3 separate regions of the Homo sapiens genome follow, and all the other regions are reported to be linked to region 2. The links are microRNA targets in miRTarBase. Many come from high-throughput screens and were not tested one by one. Region 2 holds a microRNA gene; each other region holds the end of a gene's coding sequence.

What was found. The annotated mature microRNA hsa-miR-4777-3p reads AUACCUCAUCUAGAAUGCUGUA and lies in region 2 at 4,849-4,870, opposite strand. An mRNA with a match to its seed (bases 2 to 7 or 8) in the 3' UTR can be bound and repressed. Matches are read on the target gene's strand: a 7mer-m8 pairs with bases 2 to 8, a 7mer-A1 pairs with bases 2 to 7 and ends in A, and an 8mer does both.
Region 1: miRTarBase lists GSTO2 as a target of hsa-miR-4777-3p. Seed matches in the 3' UTR shown: 7mer-A1 at 5,152-5,158.
Region 3: miRTarBase lists TIGIT as a target of hsa-miR-4777-3p. Seed matches in the 3' UTR shown: 7mer-m8 at 869-875.

The regions. Positions count from the first base shown.
Region 1 is chr10:104,296,180-104,306,727 of GRCh38, reverse strand. GSTO2 (glutathione S-transferase omega 2) reads right to left here. Exons shown (of 7, transcript NM_183239.2): 6 at 9,044-9,150; 7 at 1,778-7,600. The coding sequence ends at 7,444. Among named protein-coding and RNA genes, the nearest start is that of ITPRIP-AS1, 22 kb to the left of the region's middle. RefSeq lists enhancers at 5,478-5,977, 5,978-6,479, 6,296-7,495.
Region 2 is chr2:231,357,086-231,367,633 of GRCh38, reverse strand. It overlaps MIR4777 (microRNA 4777), which reads right to left and starts at 4,926; the gene lies at 4,841-4,926. It overlaps ARMC9 (armadillo repeat containing 9), which reads right to left. Exons shown (of 25, transcript NM_001352754.2): 23 at 6,751-6,880. RefSeq lists an enhancer at 6,322-6,965 and a silencer at 6,843-7,137.
Region 3 is chr3:114,307,880-114,315,236 of GRCh38, forward strand. TIGIT (T cell immunoreceptor with Ig and ITIM domains) reads left to right here. Exons shown (of 4, transcript NM_173799.4): 4 at 16-2,409. The coding sequence ends at 252. LOC124909411 (a long non-coding RNA gene) reads left to right here and starts at 4,200. Exons shown (of 2, transcript XR_007096008.1): 1 at 4,200-4,280; 2 at 5,307-5,533. It overlaps ZBTB20 (zinc finger and BTB domain containing 20), which reads right to left. Exons shown (of 12, transcript NM_001348800.3): 12 at 6,621-7,357. RefSeq lists enhancers at 1-73, 827-876, 1,047-1,226.

The DNA of each region.
Region 1 (10,548 bases), not on the chromosome of region 2:
GGTGAGGTAGTGCTAGTAGTGGGGAGGCCGAGCAGGGCAGAGGTTAAGCGCACAGGCTCCAGAGTCAGCCTCCCGCAAGCAAACCTCAGCTCTGCTCATCACTAGCTACGTAACACCTGGGCAAGCGACTCCACCTCTAAATCTCGGTTTACTGATCTATAAAACGGGAGTGATTGGTACTTACCTCATAAGGTTTGGAGGTATTAGTAGTATATCTAAGGTACCTAGCATATAGTCAGTGCTCAAAAAACAGAAGATTTACTATCATTCTGAATCTACCCTACATTCCCTCCTCCAAAACCCAAGTCTGAAGCCCAAGTTTCTGGTTAGGGCTTCCTGCAGTTTCCTCAGCTAACTCTTCCCCTAGCTTCCAGGATAAGCAGCCCTTGCTGCCACTGTACCTGGGATGTCTGTGTGTCCCCATCTCTCCAACTCCCTGCTGCTATCAGATCACCTGGGACAGTGTCTCAGATAAAAGTCCCCAAAGAGGGTCTTTCTGTTTAGCAAATAAATGGCCAAAAACCATTAAGTGAAATACTTAAAATACCTCCCGCCCTTACCTTTATACAGCTCCTCATTATCCATCCTGATACCCTCCTCTTATGGCAGAAAGGCACAAAGGGTGCATGTGCTGCACATGCGCATGCACACGCGCACGCGCGCGCGCGCGCGCACACACACACACACACACACACACACACACACACCCGTTGAGAGATATTCTTCACCTGTGAGCGTAACCTGAATACGCCCAGATTTAGCAACAGCTGTTCCTGCTAACAGTCATCCTCCCACTTCCCTGCCCCAGTCCTGTGATGCTGGAACAGAGGCTGCCCCTACTCAGGGTTCCCTGGGGGGCAGCGTCATCACTAAGCAACTACTACCTCCATTGCTTTGTCCATCTTAGCCCCAGGACAGGACTGGAAATGGCTCTTCGTATTGGCTTCTATAGCAGGGAGCTGACTGTTGCTGCTCAACTGCTCCCTCTGGAGGGGGCTGTCTGCTAATGACAAAGTAGGCCAGAGACCCTTGCTGTCTGCAAGGGGATTCCTGGGCATGGCAGGAATCCTTGGGAGGAAATGGCAGGGCAGAGTATTGCACAGTTCTTGTCCCTGGAGCACATGTGTAACCATCCTGTCTATGCGCAGCATGGTACTGGTGTGCTTTAGTTTTCCATTCAGCATCCAAGCTGATTGGTAACTGGGCAGGCCTGCAGGCATTTCAAATCCCTCACATTTTAACCCTTGGAAAGAGATAACCTGCTCCAAGAGGAGACAAAGATTCTCTGCTTGACCAAACTTTAGTCAGGCTCCTGAACCTCCTCCTAGGTTCATCTGTGCGTGTCCTTGTAAAATTGTTTTAGCAAAGAACCCTGCTAAGTTAGTTTGGCAAAAGAACTCCCCCACCTCAGTATCAGATCATCCTTGATATCTGATCAAGTTCCTTGTCCTCCGCCAGCCCTCTGGTGATGTCTGATCATCCTGGCCTGTCTTCAGCAAGAATCCTGTTAGGTCAGTTTAGCTAGAATCCTCCTTATCCCTGACGTTTCCTCCGAGTGATTTTCAATCCACTGACCTCTGCTCTACTTCTGGGCTATAAATACCCACTTGTTCGTCTTGTACTCAGAGTTGAGCCCAATCTCCCTCCCCAACTGCAGAAGTCTCATTGCAGCGGCCCCGATACCTACCGTGATGGTTATGAGGAAGTCTTCCTTCACATGCTTTAAACAAGTGTCAGTGAATGATTTTTTTCTTTAACAGAGTAGCGAGATTCTGAGTATTCTTCAGAAACACAGGAGAGAAGATTTATTTTACATCATCAACATTGCAAGATTTCAGAATGCACAGTATTAAACTTGGCCTTGGGGTGAGAGGGAGGAGGACGGGGAGGGATAAAATTGCAGCTTTCAAGGGATCACAGGTTGAGATTAAACCTGCACACAGGAAACAACCAGAAAACAACTCCAAACCATGAATCAAGCCATGTGCAACGTAGGACATCTAGTTCCACAAAGTGATGGGGGGATGAGCACAGGGTTCAAGTCTGATCATTGGCAGAAGCCTAGTCATAATAGGGTTGCCTGCCATTCACTGAGTTTCACCCAGCTGGTACTAAGCCCTTGCATAGATGAGACCATCATTATTCAACAGCCCAATGAAATAGGTACTTAGCCGTCCCATTTTACAGATAAGAAACTGAGGCTAATAGAGGTGTAGCAACTTACTCAAGAAAGTTAAGTTGCAAAGTCGGAATTTGATCCCAGTGCTAACCTTGAAGCCCTGTTTGTAACCCCTATGGCACGCCACTTCTCTTTACATAAAGAAGAATTTTGATCTGAACTTTGCAAGAGAAAAGACTGGTTGGAAAAAAAAACAGAGGGCTGCTCTGAGGAAGAATAGTATGTAGAGGAAATGGCATTTTCAAAGGCTCAAGAGCGCTAACAGGCCAGATGAGAGAAAAATGTTTGAAAAGATCAAATGTTCAGCCTTCCAGGCACTCAAAGAAGAAGATAAATGAAAATGGGTCTCCCAGGTGGGCACAGTGTTTGGTGTGTGTGTGTGGTGGGGGATGGGAACTGGAGACTACTCATTGAGAACTGCACTGGGCTGGATATTTGGTTATTTGTGAAGACTTCAGAAAACAAACTAAGCTAGGCTGATATAAACCACAGGGCAGTCAAGCTTGCTTCTCAACTCAGAGTAACCCAGTCTCCCCTCCATCAAGGCCAATGACTCTGACAAAGGAAACATGGGTAAGGAGACCTGAAGGTGAGAAACCAAGAAACATAACACCTGCCCCTGCCACCCCTACCACCACCAAAGCTCCAAGAAACAATGTGGGAGCCACATGCAGGCAGTTTCTGCAGCACTGGAGGGATTGCTCTAGCTTGTACTTTATGATTTAGATTAAATCTACTTTAATACTCAGAGTCATTCTGTCCTCCTAGGCCTCTGAGTCTGTGATGGGAGGGGCTGCCACAAAGGTCTCTGAAATGCCTTCAAGGCCTTTTCCCCATTTTCTTGGCCATTAGCACTTGGCTCCTTTTTACTTATGCAAATTTCTGCAGCCTGCTTGAATTCCTTCCCTGAAAACGGGCTCTTCTTTTCTACCACATAGCTGGCTGCAAATTCTCCAAACTTTTACGCTCTGCTTCCCCTGTAAATATAAGTTCCAACTTAACATAATTTCTTTGCTCACAAATATGAGCATAGGTTGTTGAAAGCAGCCAGGGCGCATCTTGAATGCTTTGCTGCTTAGAAATTTTTTCTGCCAGATACCCTAAAATCATCACTCTCAAGTTCAAACTTCCACAGGTCCCTAGGCCAGGAGCACAATGCAGCCAAGTTCTTTGCTAAAGCATAACAAAAGTGACCTTTGCTCCAGTTCCCAGTAAGTTCCTCATTTCCATCACCTCCTCAGCCTGGCCTTCACTGTCCATATCACTACTGGCATTTTGGTCACAACCATACAACCAGTCTCTAGAAAATTCTAAACTTTCCCTAAAGAAAACAGGTTTACAAAAACTGCATGTTCTCACTTATAAGTGGGAGCTAAATCATGAGAACACATGGACATGTGGAGGGTAACAATACACACTGAGGCCTATCAGAGGGTGCAGGGTGGGAGGAGGGAGAGGATCAGGAAAAATAACTAATGGATACTAGACTTAATATCTAGGTGATGAAATAATCTGCATAACAAACCCCATGACGCATGTTTACCTATGGAACGAACCTGCACATCCTGCACATGTACCCCTGAACTTAAAATAAAAGTGTTTTTAAAAAGAGGTTTAATTGGCTCATGGTTCTGCAGGCTGTATGAGAAGTGTAGTAGATTCTGCTTCTGGAGAGCCCTCAGGAAGCTTCCTCTCATGGCAAAAAGCAAAGGGGGAGCGAGGCATCTCCCATGGTGGGAGCTGGCGCAAGAGGGGTCAGGGAGATGCTGCACACTTTTAAACAACCAGAACTCATGAGAACTCACTCACTATCATGAGAACAGCACCAAGAGAATGGTGCTAAACCATTCATGAGAAATCTACCCCCATGATCCAATCACCTCCCACCAGCATTGGGGATTACATTTCAACACGAAATTTGGTGGGGTCTCAGATCCAAACCATATCACAGAATTTTAGATCTAAAAGAAATTTCAAGTACCATTTAGTCACCAGCACCACGACCATAGCCAGCTGTCCCAGCCACACAAGCCCTGCCCCATCATGCTCCCTCCTCCCCCTAGCCATGTTAGATTGTAACTGGACTGAGTCCAGGCTAGGCTGTAGCTCAGAACCTCCAAGGAGGGGAACTCCACACAACCTCCATTCTGATGTTAACATCATCTATGACCATTTCTTTTAAATGCTGTGGTTTAAACTAATTTTTTTATTTTTCCAATCTGCAAAAGATAGAGAATGGCTCTGATATGGTTTGGCTGTGCTCCACCTAAAATCTCATCTTCAATTTTAATCTGAATTATAATCCCCACATGTTGGGGGAGGGACCTCAAGGGAGGTGATTCGATTGTGGGAGTGTTTTCCCTATGCTTTTCTCATGACAGTGAGTGAGTTCTCATGAGATCTAATGGTTTTATAAGGAGTTTTTCCCTCTTTGGCTCTGTACTTCTCTCTTCTGCCACCTTGTGCAGAAGGACATGTTTGCTTCCCCTTCCACCATGATTGAAAGTTTCCTGAGGCTTCCCCAGCCATGTGGAATTGTGAGTCAATTAAACCTCTTTCCTTTATAAATTACTCAGTCTTGGGCAGTTCTTTATAGCACCATGAGAATGGCCTAATACAGGCTCTCACCTTTAAATCTTTAAGTTTAGTGCTTTTTATAAGATAGACACCCACCAGGCATGATGACTCAGACCTATAATCCCAGCACTTTGGGATGCCGAGATGGGAGGATCACTTGAAGCCAGGAGTTCAAGACCAGCCTGGTCAACATAGCGAAACCCCATCTCTATTATTTAAAAGAAAAGGGGAAAAAAAGGTAGACACCAATTACTAAAAGTGGTTATCTCTAGGACACAAGATAATGGAAGATTTTCTATTCTTTTACATTATTGTATTTTTAACCCATATGTATTCTTTCCACATGTATTAATTAAGAAGCATATTTTTAAAGTTCTTCATGGAGCATTATTTAATTACCTCCTTCCCTCTTTTCTCCAGGCCACATCCTTCTAGTTTTATTCAAAGATTGATAACTCAGTTTTCTCTGTGGGTCAGACAAGTGACAAAGAAGCGAGATGGAGGAAGTGTAAGGATGTGCAGGTGACCAGGACCCTGGTAAACAGCAGGGAGCATGCCTGGCCAAGAGGCACTCAAATCCCAAACTGGGCTATAGGCCACCAGGCTGCAAACCTCCCCCATGAGTGCTTTTCTCCATTCTATAATTCCTGGTTCTTCAAGCTTTCTAAATTAGTGTGCGGAGCCCCAAAAGAGAACACCTTCATTTTGGTGAGCCAGAGGCATGCCATTTCCTGTTGCATCAGTGGTAACTTTGGTCTTATGACAAGCACTCACTAGCATGCAGGATTTGTACCGGCAAAAGGCTGATCAATCTCCTAAGTCCTATGAGAGGCCACAGGAGAAGATTCCCCTCTTCTTGGAGCAAAGATCCCAGGAAAACGGTGATTCACAGACCTCACTCAGCATTAACTAGGGTGCCATGGCAACAGGGCTCCACATCCGGAGCAGATGGTGCGGCAGACTGCCCCTGTCATGCGCTGCCTCTTCTGGAAGTTCTGGCCACCTCACCAAGCAGGCTTGTTTCTGTCCAGCTGGCACAGAGTAACACCTGGTAACTATTTACATGGGTCAAAATATACCCAGAGCCAGCAGATGGCAGGGCCAGACTGAGACGTGGGGAGAGAGGAGGGCTGATTTGGGCTGTCTCAGAGGCAGAGGTGGCAGACAGCTCCTTAGGGAGCACAGACAAGGCAAAACATCGCTCCTGTTGCTGCCTGGTGTCTCAGCACAGCTAGGAGGATGGGAAAGGATCCAGCATGAGCAAAGCTGAAATGATCACAGGCTGATCCTCAGACACTGAGATGAAACAGCATTGGACAAACTTGGTCCCCCTCCCATAGTGCAGGCAGTAGATGCTCCCAGCCCAAGGGACCTGTTGGCACCAGCCATCCTCAGCTCTTTGCTGTCTTCAGTGGGGTGGTACTGCCTGGCGAAGCTGGCAGAGGGGCCACATCAGAGACAAGCATCCCTACAACAGACAAGCAGCTCCAAAGCGCTAGGTTTAAAACCTCAACCAAGATAAGTGGAGAGATGGGGGCTCCCAGGGACAGAGCCAATGTCTTTTTCAACTTTATCCCCAGTGTGCCCCTGGGCTTGGTACACAACAGGCAACCAGAGGCATTTGTTGAGATGAATTGGAAGAGAGTGTGACGCAAATCCAACGGAATGACCTTTGCTTGTGGCTGGGTTTGGGGCGTGTGTATTTTTTTAAGGCAGGATGCCGGCTATAGAACATTTTGTGAGACATCCTGAGCCCTGACAGCACCAGTGAAATTCTGACGTAGTTAGTCCTGGGTGATAAACCGGTGTTTCATTTCCTGCTTTGGAATTCTTTCCAGTCACAAGACCCTCGGTGTCTCCAGGCCCATGGCCAAAGTTTGGAGAATTACACTCATACTCGCCCACGTGGACAGCGACATTCATTTGCCAAATGGAAGGTATTTAGGTTTGGAGTGTTTTCTTCTTCCTTCTCCCTCTTCTTAAGCTTTCACCAGGGAGGTCTTTGGAGGGTGCCATTCTGTAGTGACAAGCATCAGTCATAGGTTGACCCTGAACCTCAGCATCAGCATCTGCACCAATAATCTGGAGATCAAACTAGGCTGAAGGCCAAGGAGTTAGGAGGCACACAGGCTCCCAAAATGTGCTCTGACATTAGCACCAGGCACTTTCTAGAAAATAGTTAGAAGCTACAGGCTAGGCAGGCCAGGTGGCTCATGCCTGTAATCTCAACACTTTGGAGACCAAGTTGGGTGGATGGCTTGCGGCCAGGAGATGGAGACCAGCCTGAGCAACATAGTGAGACCCTGTCTCAACAACATTTTTTTAAAAATTAGCTGGGCGTGGTGACACATACCTGTAGTCCTAGCTTCTCAGGAGGCTGAGGCGGGAGAATCAACTGAGCCCAGGAGTTCAAGGCTGCAGTGAGCCGACTGTCCCACTGCACTCCAGCCTGAGTAACGAAGCAAGATCTTGCCTCAAAAAAAAAAAGGAAAAAAAAGCAGCAGTAGCAGCAGCTACAGGCTAGAGGAGTCAGACAAATGATTATCAGAAGAATACATTTCCTGTTTTCATTTTATTGGGAACTTCAAAGAAAAGAAAGAGAGACGGATTGGTTCCCAAGACAAGCCGTGACGTAGACTCCCAACAAGCTGGGGAATTCTGGACAGCGAAGGGGTGGACAGTGAGACTCAGCACAGCCCAAAGTCAAAGGCATTAGGGTTGTTCTGAAAATAGAGATTCAAGAAGCCCTGGAAAATGCTCTTATCCATGAGAAGAGCACAGACTGTGGGGTCCCACTTCATGGCTGATATCCAGAGCCGCAGGGCTGGCGTGTGGCTCACACAGCTGCAAGACAGGAAAGAAGCGTCAGCACAGTGCAGGGGTAGGCATCAGGAAAGGGGATGCACGTTGCTTTTTAGATTTGCAAGATATGAAGAATGAGTTTATTTGGGAAGTTATCTTAGTTATCTTATTATCAAGTGAGAATGATAACTTACTGGAGGAAAATCTTATTTTTGGAATAGTTGAATGTTTAGAAGTTGTTGCTTCTAATAATACAGTGAAATACTTTGGACTGATGGCTCTGGGAAAATAACATGTCTGTGCTTCATTTTTTTTGTTTTGTTTTTTAATATATATATATTCTAAAGCTTGAGAAACTTACATGTGCTTCACTGCTTGCCAACAAAAAGACAACCCTCTGAAACAAATATTCTTGGGTCATTCTCAGATTTTACTTTAGGAGATATAAAAAAATAAAGACAAATAATTTCTAAAACATTTTTTAAATGAATAAAACAAGGATGAAACCTTGAAGTCATGGAGCCGACAGGGCTCTTTCAAAGCTCAACCAGGATATTTAGTTCTGGGGTTTATAAAGCAATAAGCTGAAGATAATATGAATGGGTTGTCGGGAATCCAGGACTAGAAGTGAGGTTTCCTAACCTGTGACTCCATGCTCTGTCTTCAGAGGATACAGCCTTTTGTAAATTTTATGTTTGATATTGAGTTTTAAATATCCTGACAAAGAGAGCTGAAGTCGGAAGTGCAGGAGACAGTGGCTGGTTGGGCTCCAGCCCACGGGTTATGAAGGTGCAGACACAGTTCTGCTTCAGCAGGGCCGGATTTCCAAGTGCCAGAAATGTCCAGCACCCACCATGAGGGTGGCTTGGATTAGGGTGGACGTCCGCACACGTCCAGCTTCACTGAGCTTTGAAGTAACACAGCACTGCTCTGCCCAGGAGCCTACACAGCTATTTCTTCTCCTTTAATGTCCCTGCACTTCCATACTTCCATAGTGTGTCACTGCCATTTTGTTTGTATGTTCCAATATCAAGCATATATTACTACACAAATCTTTTTTATAAGGTTATTCCTATCTGGGGGAAGATTCCTCCGGGCAATGAGACATGACTAAGGTTATATGGTGTCCCCTGGGGACCCGTCAGGACCAGGTGGAGGCGTTGGGCACTGTGACTGTGACTGTGACTCTCCACTTGCTCTCAGACCGGCCATGTGGGGGCGCTGGTGAGGACAGCAGGCTCTGAAGTCTGCGGGAGGCTCCTGGGCTAGGGGTCTGATCTGCAGAAATGCGGGCAAAGTGTGGGTCTGAAGTTAGCAGTGGAAAAGCACATATGTTTTTAACAAGGAAGCACACACTGCGGTTTAGAAACCTGATTCACTTCACAGACATCCTGAAACATGTCTACAGGGGGCATGCAGACCATCTTAACCATTGTTACTCAGTGTGACTCCGGGAATTTAACACCACAATGTCAAATGTCTTACTCCAGTATCCCATACACATCCAGCCGCTCAAACCAGGGCCAGAGGAGGTAATCAATCATGGATATACAGGTTCCACCAAAGAAGGTGGTGTTCTGATACTCAAGAATCTAAAAATGGAAACAAAGCAAAAGCAAATAAGTTTATATATCTGCTGACATGTTTATAGACACTAAATGTAAATCTCAAATTAATTCCCAGAGAGGGAGAACTGAGGCCTCTCTCCTTCTCCCTCTGGTTAGGAGAATGCTTCTTCTCTTTCTCTGAGGTCTCCTCTGCCTCTTTTAGGGTCACACTCCTGGCCACCTCTGTCCCTTCCCTCCTTTCAACACTAGAGTGACAGTGTGGCTCATCTGATTGAAGAAACTGGAAGAACAACCTCTACAGAGTACCCCAGTCCCTCCCTCTTAGCCTGGAGCAGCTCCTCAATGTGCTAAGCCTTCCAAGGATAAGCTGAGCCCTGGACAGAGGAGGCTCCCCTTCAGGCCAGCACTGCCCATTACTTGAAGACAAGGTGAGCCTCAGCCTGATGTTGAAGGCTAGCATTAGGAACCCCGCTCAGGATCTCCCATTCTCCAAGATCTGCTTTATCAATAAGAAAGGGGATGCTGCCGGGCCTGGTGGCTCATGCCTGTATTCCCAGCACTTTGGGAGGCCGAGGCGGGTGGATTACCTGAGGTGGGGAGTTCGAGACCAGCCTGACCAACATGGAGAAACCCCGTCTCTACTGAAAATACAAAATTAGCTGGGCATCATGGCACGTGGCTGTAACCCCAGCTACTGGGGAAGCTGAGGCAAGAGAATTGCTTGAACCCGCGAGGCGGAGGTTGTGGTGAGCCAAGATTGTGCCATTGCACTCCAGCCTGGCCAAGAAGAGCAAAAAGTAAAAAAGAAAAAAAGAAAAAAGAAAAGAAAAAGAAAAAAAGAAAGGGGATGCTCTAATCTCCATGCCTTATTATTTTATCTTCTCAATTAATTCAAAACTAAGGCAGGAAAGAGCATCCTATTTAACAGGCCCCCTCAAATTCCAACCTGTGTTCTTCTTCTTCTTTTTTTTTTTTTTTTTTTTTTTTTAGATAGGGTCTTGCTCTGTCACTCAGGCTGGAGTCCAGTAGATCGATCACAGCTCACTGCAGCCTCAACCTCCCGGGCTCAAGCAATCCTTCCACCTCAGCCTCCCAAGTAGCTGGGATTACCCCTGGCTGATTTTTACATTTTTTTTGTAGAGATGGGGTCTTGGGGTCTTGCCATGTTGCCCAGGGGTCTCAAACTCCTGAGCTCAAGGGATCCTCCTGTCTTGGCCTCCCACAGTGCCGGAAATACAGGTGTGAGCCACTGCACCCGGCCCCCAACTCTGTGTTTCTATCACACTTTTTTTTTCATTTGAGCTTTTCAAACTTCACATTTGTTGGCCACTCAACACTATTACTTAATGCATTAAAATAAAATTTCTCATTCCCAAATGAGACAAATCAACCCGGAGGGACTGTAAATCAGATGGACTGTAA
Region 2 (10,548 bases):
GCCCTGCCATATTTTAAGAAGGAACAACAGGAAACCTAGTAAAAACGACTCACATGAACAGCGGTACTATTCCCAGCACTGGTAAGGGCAGGGGTTAGTGCTGGGTTAGCCCTAGGACCATCGCATGGTCTTGGGGACAGGGCGGCCAGCACCAGCTAGCCTGGGAGGCAGCCCTCAAAGGCAGCCAGGGTCCCCCAGGGTTGGAGGAACTGGCAGTGCAATTCCAGGAGGGATAGCTGGCTTCCATATGGCGCCTTAAAGCCGGCAGGCAGCAAGGTCAAGTTGCAGGGTCAGGGTCAGCTGAGGTGAGTCAACAAGAAGCCCAAGGAGAGAAAGCCTGGGCGGCAGGGCCCAGGAATCCGTAACGTCCCACCTCAAGGATAACTGGAAGAGGACACCATCTTTTTGGAGAGCAATTTGCCACTGGGCATCAAAGCCCTTATGTGATGGTTATTAAAAATAATTTTTTAAAATTTGTTTTGTTGGCCGGGCATGGTGGCTCACGCCTGTAATCCCAGCACTTTGGGAGGCCGAGGCGGGGGGATCACGAGGTCATGAGATCGAGACCATCCTGGCTAACATGGTGAAACCCCATCTCTACTAAAAACACAAAAAATTAGCCAGGCGTGGTGGCGGGCGCCTGTAGTCCCAGCTACTCGGGAGGCTGAGGCAGGAGAATGGCGTGAACCCGGGAGGCAGAGGTTGCAGTGAGCCGAGATTGCGCCACTGCACTCTAGCCTGGGCGACAGAGCGAGACTCCGTCTCAAAAAAAAAAATTTGTTTGGTTTTGTTTTGAGACAGAGTCTCGCTCTATCACCAGGCTGGAGTGCAGTGGCATGATCTTGGGTCACTGCAACCTCCGCCTCATGGGTTCAAGCAATTCTCCTGCCTCAGCCTCCCGAGTAGCTGGGACTACAGGCACCCGCCACCATGCCCGGCTAATTTTTGTATTTTTAGTAGAGACGGGTTTTCACCATGTTGGCCAGGATGGTCTCGATCTCCTGACCTCGTGATCCACCCACCTCGGCCTCCCAAAGTGCTGGGATTACAGGCGTGAGCCACCGCAGCTGGCCCAATTTTTAAAATTTTATTATTTTTTTAGAGGTGGGGTTTTGCTAATGTTGCCCAGGCTGGCCTCACACTCCTGGCCTCAAGAGATCCTCCCACCTTGGCCTCCCACAGTGCCAGGATTATAAGCATAAGCCACCGTGCCTGGCCCGTAATGGTTATTTTTATGTGTCAATTTGGCTGGGCCATGGTGCCCAGATATTCGGTCAAATATTATTCTAGATGTTTCTGTGAAGTTCTTTTTTGGACAAGATGAACATTTAAATCAGTGGACTCTGAGTGAGGCAGATCACCCTCCGTAACATGAGTGCCCCCATCCAGTCAGCTGAAGGCCATAATAGAAAAAGACTGATATTCCCTGAGCAAGAAGGGGTTCTGCCAACTGATGGCCTTTGGACTTGAACGGCAACTCTCCCCTGACTCTCCAGCCTGCTGGTCTACCCCATCAGATTCTGCGCTTGCCAAGCCTCTCCAATCACATGAGCCAATTCCCTAAAATCAGCCTCTCTGTTTCCCTGGAGAGTCCTAACTAATACACCTTAAGCCTGTCCCCCTCTCCCTAGGACATGACTGTGAGGGGTGGGAATGAGCCTCCTCAGACCGGGGCTCCCTCTGCCTGGCCCCTCCCACTGGCACTGGAGAAAATAGCTGAGGCAGGAGAATCGCTTGAACCCGGGAGGCAGAGGTTGCAGTGAGCCAAGATCGTGCCACTGCACTCCAGCCTGGGTGACAGAGCGAGACTGTGTCTCAAAAAAAAAGAAAAAGAAACGACACATGAAGCCCCAGGAGGCCGAGGAGCTTGAGACGTGTCGCCAAGTGTGTGCCCATGGCATGGGAGCTGTGTGTGCGGCTGGGTCCTATCTGCTGTGTGTGCGGCTGGTTCCCATCTGCTGTGTGTGCGGCTGGTTCCTATCTGCCTTTATCTGCTGTATTCTGTTCTGGCCCGTTTCCCCACCTCTGCCCCTTTCTGGGTTTTCTTATAATCCAGATGAAATGTCCGCAGCAATAACTGAGAGCCGGTTATGAACCCTCTGGGCAGAGTCGCCTAGGGGCCCTGAATGCTTTTCTTTGGGCTTAATGCAAACAGAAGGGACACAGGATCCTCTGCTGGGTGATGCTTAGCAGCCGGATTATGACTCAGCAGCATTGCAAACACAGGGAAAGACTCAGCATCTCCCGAGGCATTTTATGGCTCTTCCCTCCCAACACAATGTTCCTATTGATACGCTGAGATCATATAAGGGCCAGGCTGCTCTAATAAACAATCGCCTACCTTGCAGAGCACCTCCCAACTTTCCCGTATATCACCCTTTACATTTTTTCCAGGACTCAGTCCCATGCGTTTCTGCGGCACGTGACTTCCCCTATGTCATAGGTGACTGCCGTCCTGGACTTCCTTTCCACATGGTTTCTCTGCTCTGCCCTAATCTGGCCTCATCTCAGGCCAGACCAGCGCCATTTCCTGGCCCTGGCTCCTGGCTGCCTCCAGGCTGCTGAGCTCACCATGCTGGGAGGATGGAGGGCCCTGAGGCCACCAGGGGCTCAGCTGACACTTACCAACAGCCGTCCACCCCACCTCCCACTGCATCCTTCCTAGAGCAGCTGGAGCATCCAATGATAGGGGCCCAGCCTCCTAGGTCAACACAGGCACTGCCTGAAGCAGCCCCCAAGGTGGTCAGGGTGCCTCACGGGGTGGGCTCTGCCAGGCCAAGGGGCAGCTCCCTGATGCTCTGCCGAGGGCCACTTTCTTTCTTTCTTTTTTTTTTTTGAAATGAAATCTTGCCCTGTTGTCCAGGCTGGAGTGCAATGGTGTGATCTCGGCTCACTGCAACCTCCACCTCCTGGGTTCAAATGATTCTCCTGCCTCAGCTTCCCGAGTAGCTGGGATTACAGGCATGCACCACCATGCCCGGCTAATTTTTGTATTTTTAGTAAAGACAGGGTTTCACCATGTTGGTCAGGCTGGTCTCAAACTCCTGGACCTCAGGTGATCCGCCCGCCTCGGCCTCCCAAAGTGCTGGGATTCCAGGCATGAGCATGTGTTGTTTCTTTAGCTGGATGCATGAATGTGCCATTGGGAGCTGCTGTCCATCCTCAGGGACAAACGTGAGGGGAAAGGCATACATGTAGACATATGTACAATCTCTTCTCATTTTAAAAAAGTCACAGCACTTGCAAAAGAATCACTTCTCATCTGTGGCAGGACAAGATTTTTGACATTTGCTTCTGATCCTGTCCTGGGCCTGAGTGCGAGGAGCTCCTCAGACAGAGCCACCTCCCTCACCTGTCCTCAGGCCACGTGGAGGTGAACTTCCAGGCACAAGCACCCCACACCTGGCTGGGGCTGCTCTTCTGGAGTGGCAGGGCCATGCTGAGAAGGACTGACAGGTGACAGTCAAGGCAGCCCTGCCATCACCTTCCTGCACATTCCGGGGTGCAACTCAGCCTCTGTGGTCTGGACTGACATACTTCTTGGGATGCACTTTGGCTCTTCGCAGGATAAATGCATTTGTTTCTTAATAAATACATCTTTAAAGCTGGTCAACATTCGTTTTATCCTGCTACTTAATCTAAGGAGTCTAAGAAGCTGACAAAGGAAAAGGAAAATTTCACCATGGGGGTTGGGGGAAGGCACCATGATTGTAGGGTCTGGGCTTTTTTTTTTTTTTTTTTTTTTTTTTTGAGACGGAGTCTTACTCTGTCGTCCAGGCTGGAGTGCAGTGGTGCGATCTCGGCTCACTGCAACCTCTGCTTCCCAGTTCAAGCGATTCTCCTGCCTCAGCCTCCCAAGTAGCTGGGACTACAAGCACGTGCCACCACGCCCAGCTAATTTTTGTATTTTTAGTAGAGACGGGGTTTCTCCATGTTGGCCAGGATGATCTTGATCTCTTGACCTCGTTGTCCGCCCGCCTTGGCCTCCCAAAGTGCTGGGATTACAGGCGTGAGCCACTGCGCCAGGCAGGTCTAGACTTTTATTCTCTAGCCTCCGAGAAAGTAATTTTACAGCAAGACAGTTGCTGGAAGTCACTGGCACAGAGCTTGAGTGGCCATTATCCTTAAAACACCTGAAAGCCGGGCTAAGTAAACAGTGCCATCATTCAGTCTACCACTGACCCAGACCTCTGCCCCAAGGGCTTCCTGGGCTAAGTAACAGTGCCATCATTCAGTCTACCACTGACCCCAGACCTCTGCCCCAAGGGCTTCCTGCCCATCCACCAATTCTTCTTCTGGGTATGAGACCTCACCTGAAAGAGCAAGAGAACAGAGCTCGGGGAAGTTGAGGGGACAAACGTTCCCCACCAAAGCCACATAGAGAACCACTCTTTCTCCCTTTCTCCTACTTGTTCATCAACAAGTACTCTAACCACCTAGGCCAGGTGCAGAAGCACAGCACAGATGCCCTGCACTCCTGGCACTCTGTGCACACTCCTGCATGCCCTGCATTCCCTGCACTCCTTGCACACTCCCTGCAGCCCTGCACTTCCTGAATACCTTGCACACTGTGCACACTCCCTGCAGCCCTGCATTCCCCGTATACCCAGCAGGCCCTGCACGCTCTCTGTGCCCTGCACACTGCGCTTGTCTCTGAGGCAGTGAGAGGCAGCCACATGACAACACAGTGGGGTCTCCGCCCCGTGGAGGGACTGTGGCTTCTGTGAGCCTGGCAGAAGGGCGTGACCCGCACTTTGGGGTCAGGCAGGAGGAAGGGATGCTTCAGTGAGACCTGAATTGGGGCTGAAGTCAGCCTGACAAGAGATGGCCACTTGTGATTTAGAATATTACAGCATTCTAGATGAGGTATACCATATACATATGAGGTATATATATATCTCTCATCTAGAATGCCGAAATATTCTAGATGACGTTGCCAGTGAGGGAGGAAGAGGAAGATGGAACAACTTGTACTTCTCCCTCCTTCCATCCTCTTCTTCCTCACACTGAACTCCCAGGCTTAAAATAAGAGCTGGCTTCAGTGACTGACACCAAGGGGAGGGCACCTCTGGGTTGGACCCTGAGGGGTCTTTGTGCTCAGTAGAATCTTGGGGGGCCAGCTAGGCAACGCTGCTTGATGTAATGAGGTCCCTCAGGGTCGGCTGCCTACCTACTGTGAAAACAGTTATTTCTGGGGAGAGAGGGCTGTCCCCAGTGGAGAGCCTCAGAAATGAACTCAGCATTTGCAGGAAGTAAAAAGAAGTGGCCTATACCGGAAGCGTAGGTTTGGCCTGGCTGAACCGCAGGGGAGGATCCAGTCTGGACTGGGGGCATGAGATAGCTCTAGCCCACTCCTCAGAGGTCTCTCATTTTGAGTCCCCATTTCAGGGGGATGCTGAGAGCCTGAGAACCCCTGGTCTAGCTGACAAGCTCCTCTTCAGCCACAGAAAGAGGGGAGGAGGCCCAGGTAGGGGAGGTAGGTCCCTGGGTCCCCAGGCAGGTTGGCAGTGGAACTGGAGGAGTCCAGAGGCTTGGCCCCTCCCCCAGTAATGCAGCCACCTTTGACCCCGTGCTTCTTAAAGATAGCTGGGACTGCCCCCACCCTTCCCTAGCCCAGGTCTTGAAGTCCTTCCCATCCTTCCCACAGTTCCGATTTCGGCTTCTAGCCCATCCCACCCAAGGAAGCTCAGCACACTTGTCTGCGCCCCCTTTCTCTTACATCCTCCTCCTGTCTGCCACTCCCCATTGATTTCTCTTCCTGCCTCTTTCTCTCTCCGATTTTCTCCACCAGTGGGTGCAGGTTCTGCTCAGTCTTCCTGCCTGTCCTCTCCGGGGGCCCCCAGAACTAAGCTGAGCCTGCTCCAGCCCCATATTTTACCGCAGGAGGTTGGCTTCCTTCATGGCCAGGAGGAAGTGGTGAGGGGCAGCTGGCATGCCTGGTGGTCAGGGACAGGCAGGGTCTGAGACCCAGGCCAGGCCCCTCTCCCTGAGCAGGTTTCTCCAGATCCAAAAGAAAGAGCTGGCGAGATTGGAAAGGTCCTTTCTAGACCCTAAAGAACCCCTAATAACCCACAGGGCCAGTCTGTGCTCACGTGGCACAGTGGAAGAGAGGACACTATTTTTTTTTTTCTTCTGCTCGGGGGTCCAGTTTTTTCTTTTCTTTTTTTTTTTTTAGTTTTTTGATTTTTTTTTTTTTTTTGAGACAGGGTCTCACTATGTTGCCCAGGCTAGTTTCAAACTCCTGGGCTCAAGCAATCCTCCTGCCTCAGCCTCCCAAAGTGTTGGGATTACAGGCGTGCGCCACCACGCCCCAGCCTGGAGGCCCAGTTTCTGTTTCAGGAAGTGACCTCTGAGCCAAACCATTTACTCACCTCCTTCTCCATCTTTCTGCCCTACAGCCCACTTCCTCCAAATGCAAAAAGCTGACAGGACACTGTCCCTAAGTCACCCCATCACCCAGCCCTGGACAAGTCCGCCTGGCAGTTTTGAAAACTAGTCCCATGGGCATGCTTCTGAGTGCTGTGTCCTTCCCGTCTGACTGATGGCTCTCAGGCAGCACAGCCCTCCGAGGTGGTCAGGAGTGGCGGCTGCACTCCGCTGGGAATCTTGACACTGCTCCTTAGCCTCCCCTGTCAGAGGCTGGGCCTCAGAGGAGCCTTCCAGGTCTCCTGGGTGCTCTGCATCCGGCGTGGGGCGCCCACTCCCAGAGCTCCGAGAGTCAGGTTCGAGGCCTTGTGATATCCCCCTTACCTGGTGGTCACTCCATTGCCTGGGTCCTGGGGCGCCTCCCTTGGCTGGCGGGGGGTCCCCGTGGGGGCTGGGCGAGGCTCTTCCTGGCGTCCTCTTGGGAGCCACTCTCCTGGCTTGGCGATGATGGCTGCTGGGGAGGAGGAGAGAAAGTTCAGTCCACATCTGCTCTGGAGCCCCTCTAAGGATGCCCTCTCGTGGGCTGGGTTGGAAAGCCAAGAAAAGCACGCACCCCAGGCCAGGCCCTGCGGGCTCCCTGGCGCCTGTGGCTTGGGATACTTGTTTACTCGTGCAGCCCGGGAACTTGCCAGGTAGCGGGGGATGGCAGGCACACTGCTGGTGGTGACAGGCACAGCCCAGGGAGGTTCAGATCACCCTGGCCGCTCAGCCTTCCTGGCACCCCTCAGCCTCTGGAAAGCCCTCAGAACAACAAATTGTCTCCCTGGGCCATGGCTAGGCGCCCCCAGACAGAATGTGGAGGCCCATTTGCTTATCTGAAACTCAAATGTAACTGGGTGGTGTGTAGTTTTATTTGCTAAAACCAACAACCTGAGAGGTAGGGTGCTCCTCACCGAGCAGCCCAAGGCTCCTTAATGCTGAACCACTCGGTACACCCAGGGTGGCCAGGAAGTGCCCTAACTCCCAGTGACTTGTGCTGTAGCTGATGCCCACCCAGAACCAGGCCACCCGGGACACGCAGGAGCCCTTCACGGGGAAGCAGACGGAGAATCCCAGATAGCATCATAGCATACGGAGGGCTCCCCAAGGGCCTGGGAACAGATGTTCCTGCATCTCAGATGCCACGCACCCCTTCCCCCACCCCGCCTCTCCTCTTCTCCTACAGCTGAAGGGGTCCATGTCACTGCTGCAGCGACACTGTGACAGAGGCTGCATCCGTGACTCCCTTAGGCCAAGCTCCTCTCAGCTCTTTCATTTTAGCAGCTCCTCTGTGGCTTTGCAATGTGATCTGTTTAATCTTAAATATAAAGGGATCTTCCCTGCAGGTTTCCCTGTAGCAAGGGGCTTTGACTTCCAGATAATTCTCTTTTGACCCAAACGAGAATCTATTTCTGATACCAGAACCCAGCGGGTGGCACTGGGCGGTCTCCACCTGGATCTGGGTCTAGAAATAGAGCTTCAGGACAGGAGGCACATGCTCAGTGTGCTTAGAATAAGGCCAGGAGAAAAAGCGTAGGTGTACAAGAGAATACTTGAGTGAAGTCACACCGAATTGCTGGGCTACACGCAGGGGAACCCCATTACAACGTGTGGAGTCACAAAGCTGTGCCCACGCCAGGCAAGTCCTCTAGGACCAGGACCAGGAGCTTCCCAGGGGGTGTGAGCGTAGGGGACGGGGTGGTCATAAAAAAGGAGGAACTGAGCTGGAGTGTCCCAAGACCATGAGGTGGTCTTGGTTCAACTGTCCCCTTCTCCTCTCCTACTTCCTCCAGCACAGGCCACACTGAAGACTTTCAGAGGTCCCACCAAGAACAAGAGACCAGCTGAGCACGGTGGCTCACGCCTGTAATCCCACCACTTTGGGAGGCTGGGGCAGGCAGATCACTTGAGGCCAGGAGTTTGAGACCAGCCTGGCCAACATGGTAAAACCCTGTCTCTACTAAAAATACAAAAATTAGCCGGGTATGGTAACACATGCCTGTAATCCCAGCTACTCAGGAGGCTGAGGCAGGGGAATCACTTGAACCCCGGGAGGCGGAGTTTGCAGTGAGCCAAGATCGCACCACTGCACTCCAGCCTGGGTGAGAGAGCGAGACTCCATCTCAAAAAAAAAAAAAAAAAAAAACAGGAGACCCCCCTAACTAAGACAGCCAGGAGCTAGGAGATGGGGCAGCCATGGGTGTGCACCGGGGTCTTCCTGGGACAGTAGTATCTCTTGCCTGCTGGTCCATTTCAGACAGGGCTGGGCATTTTAACTCCCAGGGCTATGAAGTCCCAAGGCATGTGATTTTGATATTGAAGATAGTCCTGGTTGGTGGGGAAATGAGAATAGCTTTCCTTAGGCCAACGTTCTGCAAAATGCTAAGCCATATTATTGGCCTTTTCCCTTGGGAACTATTTCCTGTTGGCATTTGGGGCTGTCTTTTGCCTAGAATGTACTTTCTGGGCCTGCACTCAACCGATCAAGCAGTTTGAGGGTCCAACAGGTTCCTCCTCATGAGTTTTCCCTGCGGTGCTGACTGAACGCAAAGCGCAAAGGCTCTTCCTCAAGAAACTCAGCGTGAAGGTGGGGGTTTCCACGGGGTCTCTGGGTGGGGCGTTAGTTCCCAGCACAGGCCAGACTCAGCAGCGAGCTGTGTGCAAGGAGACCTGTGGGGAGCGCTGCCTGGGGCCAGGATGGGCCTGGGGCAAGGTGAGTGAGAGAAGGGAAGTGGAGGGGGCCCCATGCCTGTAATCCCAGCACTTTGGGAGGCCGAGGCGGGAGGATCGCTTGAGCCCAAGGGTTCAAGACCAGCCTGGGCAGCACAGAGAGACACCTCTCTCTACAATCAATCAATCAATCAATCAATCAATCAATTGAAGTGGAGGGGAGGGATGGAGAAGCAGGACTGTCTGGAGGAAGTCAGAGCAAGCTCCTGAGCAGGGAAGGAATGAAGCAGAAGGCAACATGGCTCAGGGGTGCCCATGCCCAGCCCAGCACTGCCCACTCCCTGCTGTCCCTGCTGCTCATCCCCCTCCCCCTCATTCATACCCTGGCTTAATGGACTTAACCGCAGTCCCCCTATCTGCAAAGCCCAGATGGAGCACAGAAGCAGAGGGCTGTTTGCCATCCATCCCTTAGGCAGAGGCAGGTGACAGGACAGGGAGAGGGGCAGGGAGGCCAACTGGGGAGACGCAACAGGCCGTGGGCAGGCCTGTCTGAAAGAAGGTCAGAATGGAATCTACTCCAAGCGTGGCAAAGGCTTACTCATGACCCAGAGGAAACTGCACCTGGGGCTTGGTTTTTCCAAAGGAAGAACTTTTTGTCAAGTAAAAGGATTTTAAAGGAGACTAAGAGGGCCAGGCATGATGGCTCACGCCTGTAATCCCAGTGCTTTGGGAGGCTCAGGCAGGAGGATTACTTGAGACTAGGAGTTCAAGACCAGCCTAGGCAACAGCAAACTTCGTCTTTACAAAAAATAGAAAACCACTTTGCCTGGTATGGTGGTGCATCTGTAGTGCCAGCTACTCAGGAAGCTGATGCGGGAGGATCGCTTAGGAATGTGAGGCTGCAGTGAGCTATGACTGGCCACTGCACTCCAGCCTGGGGGACAGAGTGAGACCTTGTCTCAAAATAAAATAAAATAAAGTAAAATAAAATAAAATAAAAGGAGGACTAGGGGTGTTGGCCTGAGGCTCAGAGCGGGCCTGGCAGGGCCAGGGAGGGCAGTGACTATTCCTGGTCTCTGGCAGGTGGAGAAGGGCAGGGCTGCGTGGGTCCGTGTCCTGGGTCCCAGCCAGGCTGAGCCAATAGGAGCAGGCTTAAGGAAGGGACACTCAGAACACGGTCTCAGCATTTGGGGCAGGTTAATGGGGGCACTGACAGCGGGATTTGGGAAAAGCACTGCTCTGCCTCCAGCCGGTCCATCTGGGGGCTGGTGGGCAGCTGCTGCCTCCCTAGGAAGAAGCACTGGCAACCGCCCGTGACCACCAAGGCTGAGTGTCCTGGTGGGTGCCCACCCTGTTCATGCAAGAACCCGGAATGTGCCTGGGCCCAGACTTTGTCAGGGCTAAAGTAAACTGTTCTTGAAAACAACAATAACATCAACATTGCAGCAGCTGCTCCTTGGCCATTTCCATCCA
Region 3 (7,357 bases), not on the chromosome of region 2:
TTTGTTTGTTTTTAGAAGAAAGCCCTCAGAATCCATTCTGTGGAAGGTGACCTCAGGAGAAAATCAGCTGGACAGGAGGAATGGAGCCCCAGTGCTCCCTCACCCCCAGGAAGCTGTGTCCAGGCAGAAGCTGCACCTGCTGGGCTCTGTGGAGAGCAGCGGGGAGAGGACTGTGCCGAGCTGCATGACTACTTCAATGTCCTGAGTTACAGAAGCCTGGGTAACTGCAGCTTCTTCACAGAGACTGGTTAGCAACCAGAGGCATCTTCTGGAAGATACACTTTTGTCTTTGCTATTATAGATGAATATATAAGCAGCTGTACTCTCCATCAGTGCTGCGTGTGTGTGTGTGTGTGTATGTGTGTGTGTGTTCAGTTGAGTGAATAAATGTCATCCTCTTCTCCATCTTCATTTCCTTGGCCTTTTCGTTCTATTCCATTTTGCATTATGGCAGGCCTAGGGTGAGTAACGTGGATCTTGATCATAAATGCAAAATTAAAAAATATCTTGACCTGGTTTTAAATCTGGCAGTTTGAGCAGATCCTATGTCTCTGAGAGACACATTCCTCATAATGGCCAGCATTTTGGGCTACAAGGTTTTGTGGTTGATGATGAGGATGGCATGACTGCAGAGCCATCCTCATCTCATTTTTTCACGTCATTTTCAGTAACTTTCACTCATTCAAAGGCAGGTTATAAGTAAGTCCTGGTAGCAGCCTCTATGGGGAGATTTGAGAGTGACTAAATCTTGGTATCTGCCCTCAAGAACTTACAGTTAAATGGGGAGACAATGTTGTCATGAAAAGGTATTATAGTAAGGAGAGAAGGAGACATACACAGGCCTTCAGGAAGAGACGACAGTTTGGGGTGAGGTAGTTGGCATAGGCTTATCTGTGATGAAGTGGCCTGGGAGCACCAAGGGGATGTTGAGGCTAGTCTGGGAGGAGCAGGAGTTTTGTCTAGGGAACTTGTAGGAAATTCTTGGAGCTGAAAGTCCCACAAAGAAGGCCCTGGCACCAAGGGAGTCAGCAAACTTCAGATTTTATTCTCTGGGCAGGCATTTCAAGTTTCCTTTTGCTGTGACATACTCATCCATTAGACAGCCTGATACAGGCCTGTAGCCTCTTCCGGCCGTGTGTGCTGGGGAAGCCCCAGGAAACGCACATGCCCACACAGGGAGCCAAGTCGTAGCATTTGGGCCTTGATCTACCTTTTCTGCATCAATACACTCTTGAGCCTTTGAAAAAAGAACGTTTCCCACTAAAAAGAAAATGTGGATTTTTAAAATAGGGACTCTTCCTAGGGGAAAAAGGGGGGCTGGGAGTGATAGAGGGTTTAAAAAATAAACACCTTCAAACTAACTTCTTCGAACCCTTTTATTCACTCCCTGACGACTTTGTGCTGGGGTTGGGGTAACTGAACCGCTTATTTCTGTTTAATTGCATTCAGGCTGGATCTTAGAAGACTTTTATCCTTCCACCATCTCTCTCAGAGGAATGAGCGGGGAGGTTGGATTTACTGGTGACTGATTTTCTTTCATGGGCCAAGGAACTGAAAGAGAATGTGAAGCAAGGTTGTGTCTTGCGCATGGTTAAAAATAAAGCATTGTCCTGCTTCCTAAGACTTAGACTGGGGTTGACAATTGTTTTAGCAACAAGACAATTCAACTATTTCTCCTAGGATTTTTATTATTATTATTTTTTCACTTTTCTACCAAATGGGTTACATAGGAAGAATGAACTGAAATCTGTCCAGAGCTCCAAGTCCTTTGGAAGAAAGATTAGATGAACGTAAAAATGTTGTTGTTTGCTGTGGCAGTTTACAGCATTTTTCTTGCAAAATTAGTGCAAATCTGTTGGAAATAGAACACAATTCACAAATTGGAAGTGAACTAAAATGTAATGACGAAAAGGGAGTAGTGTTTTGATTTGGAGGAGGTGTATATTCGGCAGAGGTTGGACTGAGAGTTGGGTGTTATTTAACATAATTATGGTAATTGGGAAACATTTATAAACACTATTGGGATGGTGATAAAATACAAAAGGGCCTATAGATGTTAGAAATGGGTCAGGTTACTGAAATGGGATTCAATTTGAAAAAAATTTTTTTAAATAGAACTCACTGAACTAGATTCTCCTCTGAGAACCAGAGAAGACCATTTCATAGTTGGATTCCTGGAGACATGCGCTATCCACCACGTAGCCACTTTCCACATGTGGCCATCAACCACTTAAGATGGGGTTAGTTTAAATCAAGATGTGCTGTTATAATTGGTATAAGCATAAAATCACACTAGATTCTGGAGATTTAATATGAATAATAAGAATACTATTTCAGTAGTTTTGGTATATTGTGTGTCAAAAATGATAATATTTTGGATGTATTGGGTGAAATAAAATATTAACATTAGTTTCATGCTTCTTTTTATCTTTTTAACGTGGCTACTGGAAAGTCTAAAATTGCATATGTGGCTCTCATATTTCTATGTGACTGTGCTGCTCTAGTAGCTAAACCCAAGCCAAACTGATACCCAGGGAGGGTGTCTATCTATGTCTATTGGTCTCCATTTCTTTTTCTTTCAAAATAGTGTTTGAGGAAGATTTTCCTGCTTATGATGTCTTTTGGGAAATATGTAGGGAAGCATCACAGAGAAGATTGAGGAAGGGGAACACTCAGTGCTGACAGGAAGCGATGCCAGGCTTTTCTGGGTCCCCTCGTGGATTCCCTAACAGGAGGAGCGAATAGACAAATCTATGAATGAGCATTCAAGGAGGAATACATTACTGATTCCCTGACCACATTCTAAGCCTGGGCGTACAAGTCTGATCTATAATCCTGAGAATTATACTAAAGAAACGTGAGAAACTTTGAGTCATGGAGCTTTGAGATAGATGGTCTTCATGAGTGAACAGGACCTCACTATGCAATTTTATTTCCTGCCTTTTCCCCTTTTCATTTCTCACCACTGTGAGCCCCAGAAATGAGTCGTCATACACTCAGGTTCATTCAGATTCCATCAGTGCTGAGCTGGACAGGCAGGGAGGCTGGGTGTGAGGTCCACCAATGACAGCATTCTGGTGGGCACACCTCACCCCACAGAGAGGGGGCAATGGGCAGTGTGGCTGTCATTTGTGGGGTGTGAGTTTTGTTTAGTCTCCTGATTCTTTCAGGTGCTGCTTCATAGCTGTAACTGGTAGTTTCCCACACTTACTCCAAGTCACACCTGTCAAGAGGTACAGGGGAGCTTTTTGTGTGGCAAGAGCCTGAGCTTTCTGGAAGTCACAACGATATACTCAATGTTTGAGGTAATTTATTTGCATAAGGTAGTGTAGGACAATGCTATCCAAAGAACTTTCTGCAATTATGGAAATGCTCTATGTCTGTCCCATCCAGTATGGTAGCCATTAGCTGCATGTGGCTGTTGAGCACTTGAAATTTGGCTAATGTGACAAAGAAACTGAATTTTAAATTTTATTTCATTGTAATTAACAAATTTAAATGTAAATAGCAACATGTGACTGGTGGCTAGTATATTGGACATTCCAATTCTAGTAATTGCCTTGCATATAGAGAAAACACAGACAGCTGTGTTTATAGGACATTGGATGGCTCGCCAGTTGTTATGCATTTGAAATGGCTATCACCAGGAAGAAACTTGAAGGTTCTCCTCTACTCTCCTATATCCATCCTCTGATCGAGACAAACCATGAGGTCAAAGCAGGCTGTACATTTATTTATTTCAGGTTTTTTCAAAAAAAAAAATCTGAGGCAGCTAAGTGGTCCAGTTCATGTAAATAGGGCCAAAATTGTCAAGAAATTTGCAACTCATAGGGGTTATGCAGAAATAGACTGTCATCACAGGACTTACCATAGACTATATTCATTCTGACTTCATGTAGGCTGTGAAGAGCACCTTCTCTGGGACTAAAACTCTGATGGACTTCACAGAGATCAAAAAAGAAGTAATCATGGAGTGTAGTGGACAGGGAATTTAGAAACTTGGTCCAAGTGCTGAGCTCTGCAATTAGTTTCACGACTTTGGATAAGCCACTTAACCTATCAAAGACTCATAAATATTTCCTCATTTATAAAATGGTAATATTACTATCTTTCTAAGATTCTTAAGAAGATGAGGCAGGAACGTGGCTGACTGCTTTGTGAGCTGCAAGATGCTGGGTTAATATTATTGTGTTCTGCCCCAGGAACACGTGCACCAGGTAATGCTAATGATGCCACAGAAGTTTTCATGGAGGCAACAAAACTGGCTTGGAGCAACTGAGGTATCTGAAATTATCTATCAATCAATGTTCTTAAAAACTGAGATATAAGGAAAGCTAAGAGTTGCAGATACAGCCTTGGGGTCCACAAGTTCTCTGCAAGCGTTTAAACATTGTGTGTTTTAAGTGAAATGATAATCTTCAAAGAAGTCATCTATATCTGGATGTTGATAGCCTTCTTAAAACAGAGTGTTGTCATTGGTTTTAGCCTCTATGTTTGTGTTTATACATATAAACTTGATTATAATCAAGTTTATTTAAAGGCACAGAAGCTTAATTTATAAATGATTCATTTACTCCCAGATGGGTGGAGAAGTGGAAGACTTTGCAGTATTGAACTAACAGGAAAGTGAAGCGATAATTGCTTTACTTTGCACACTGTAGTGTAGGGATGTTGTATTCAGAAGGGTGTGTGCAGTACACTTAACTTTGTGAGCCATGACTTAGATTCAGGAAAGCATCATTCTATGCACTCATTGTTATTGTAGACATTACTAATTTTATAGTTTTACTTGTACTTAATTAGTAACTTGTAGTTTTATAATTCTACAAGGGATATAAGCATAGTAAGTTCACTTGTCGTTGTGTTTGAGCCTATTTAAGAATGTCTATAATAAAATAATTATGCATATTATGAATTTATTACTAGATATTATAATAAGAATAATTATTTTATTATTATCGCCTCCCATTGAGGAGGTCTGTGAAACTATTTTTTTTCCTTCATATGGGCATACACACATTACTCAAGTTTGAGAATAATGGTATGGTATAAATATTATTGGATTTCAGAAAACCTGACCTCAGGCACTAGTTTATTGTTTTTTATTGGAAAAACACATATTTCTGAACCTGTGTTTTTATAAATTAGTGCAATCATAGCTACATCACAATATTTACAGTATAACTGTGAAGATGAAGGATATTAAGGAGAAACTTTGTAAACTGTGAAGTACCATATGAGTAGCGTATGTGTCATTTACAATTATTACAGCCTGTATATAAATCGCACCACAATGTTTTTAACAGGTACAGAAGAAAACTTAAGAGTGTGTGGATAGTGCAAAGAGAGATCCAAGACTTTGGGTGAAGCTGGCTGGCATTGTTAAGAAGATGTTGGTTCACAGAAATGATATAGAGACAAATTATGCATCATGAAAATATTTTCTTCCTCTTTATACTTCTAGACTATCAATCAGGTTGACTTAGAAGTTCAGCAATTGAGTTGCAAGAAGTAAATATTTAAATTCACAGTGGTAATGTTGAAATCTCAGGAATTTATTGACATCCTTTCAGTCTAGAGGTCTCTTGATGACTCTCCCCATCCCAAGCTCATGCCTGGATATTTTTGTGCTCCTCACACTGGTGGAAATGTCTGTCCACACTCAGCTTCTCCAACTCAAAGCTTAGTGTTCTTGCGAGTCCCCAAACTAGACCGCTTATTCTTTGGACCCTTTCTTGACTCACTCTAGCCATTATCAACTTCCTGTTAGTTTAGAAACTCCCTTGGCATTGAGAGTCTGAATGGCACAATCTAGCTCTTGATTTTATACAAACCTCTCTTCATGTCTAGTTGTTAGATTTTAAGCCTTCTCATGGCTGAAATAATTTCCTCTCTTTTATTCATACATTGCACAGTGCTGACTGAAATACAGAAGACATTGTGAATTTAATTTGTGTTGACTTCACCAAGGACAAACAAGATATAAGTTTTCTTCACCATATTAGCACTTTCTGTAAGAATGATGAGATCAGAGAGCTCTTTATGGCCAGGGTCACTATAACAAAGAATCTATGGGCCAAATAGGAGTCCCTTATGAGTCTCCAAAGTCATTAAAGAGGGGCATGTTTTGTGCCATGAACTTTCCTTTTTTGCATATGGAGCTGAGAAACCCAAAAGTTAAAAAGGAGACTCAGTGATAGATTCATGGATAACAGAGATGGGTGGAAACAAGAATAGGTGGGCATAGTGTTATAATATGGGATTGATTATTTCCACAGCAGGCAGACTGTGATTTGCATGTGGAAAAGGAAAAAATGTGAATCAATTTGTAGAGCAATAAGTGATCCTTGTCATTTTTGAGGTTTGAATATGTATAAGACAATACACCAATTTGCTTTATATTTCCTCAAAGTGACTTCGACATCACCAATCCTGTCTGTAGTTCCTACTTCTTGTATTGAGAAGACTAATATACTCAGAGTTTTTCTGGCCTTGTAGGTAGAGTCCTCAGTTTGGATAAATAATCTCAGATTAGACATAGAATACAATGTGTGAAAGAATGTGGAGAACTGCCTAAAACAGAAACTACAGTATAAAGAAGACACAATAGGAAACCAAGAGAAGAGTTTTTTTTTTTTTAATTATTCCTTCATATTCAAACTTCACAAACAGTGTGAACTTGTACAATACCTCGGAAAGTGAAACTTACAAAAAAAGTGCTGGTAACATTTAAAAAAAAAACAACAAAAACCCCAAAAAAACAAACATCATTCTTAGCAACATCAATTACTCTTCCACACAAAACAGAAACCTTGTAAAATTTATTTTCGTATTTTTAAGGCGTAATACTTCCGTATAAAGTATATGCAAGAGATAAAACTTCACAGTATTCCAAAATGTCACAATAATAATAATAATATAATAGTATAATGAAGCGCTACAGTTAATTTTTCTTTTTTTGAATGTTTTTTTTCCTGTTTAAATAACAAATACAAGTCACAGGTAAATATACGTGAGAAAAATACGAGGCTAATATTAAATGGCAGGTAAGGATACTGTCACTGTAAGAAAAAACTGGCAGGATGTGTGTATTTAGTCTATATTTTAAAGCACTTGATAGAAAAGGCGTATGCAAGGTTTTTCCAAACAATTTTTCTGTTTGTTTGTTTGATAACTGACAACAATTTAAGAGTATAATGAGAAAAAAAAAGGAACAAACTCCCTCTCAAAACTATTGACCTGCTCATCCCAAACCATGTATATGTTGATGGATGGATGTGTGTTTTTGTGGATATATGGATTTATACCGTGCACAGAGTGATACAAGCAGTGTTCCATGCCCACCTGCAAAGATTGG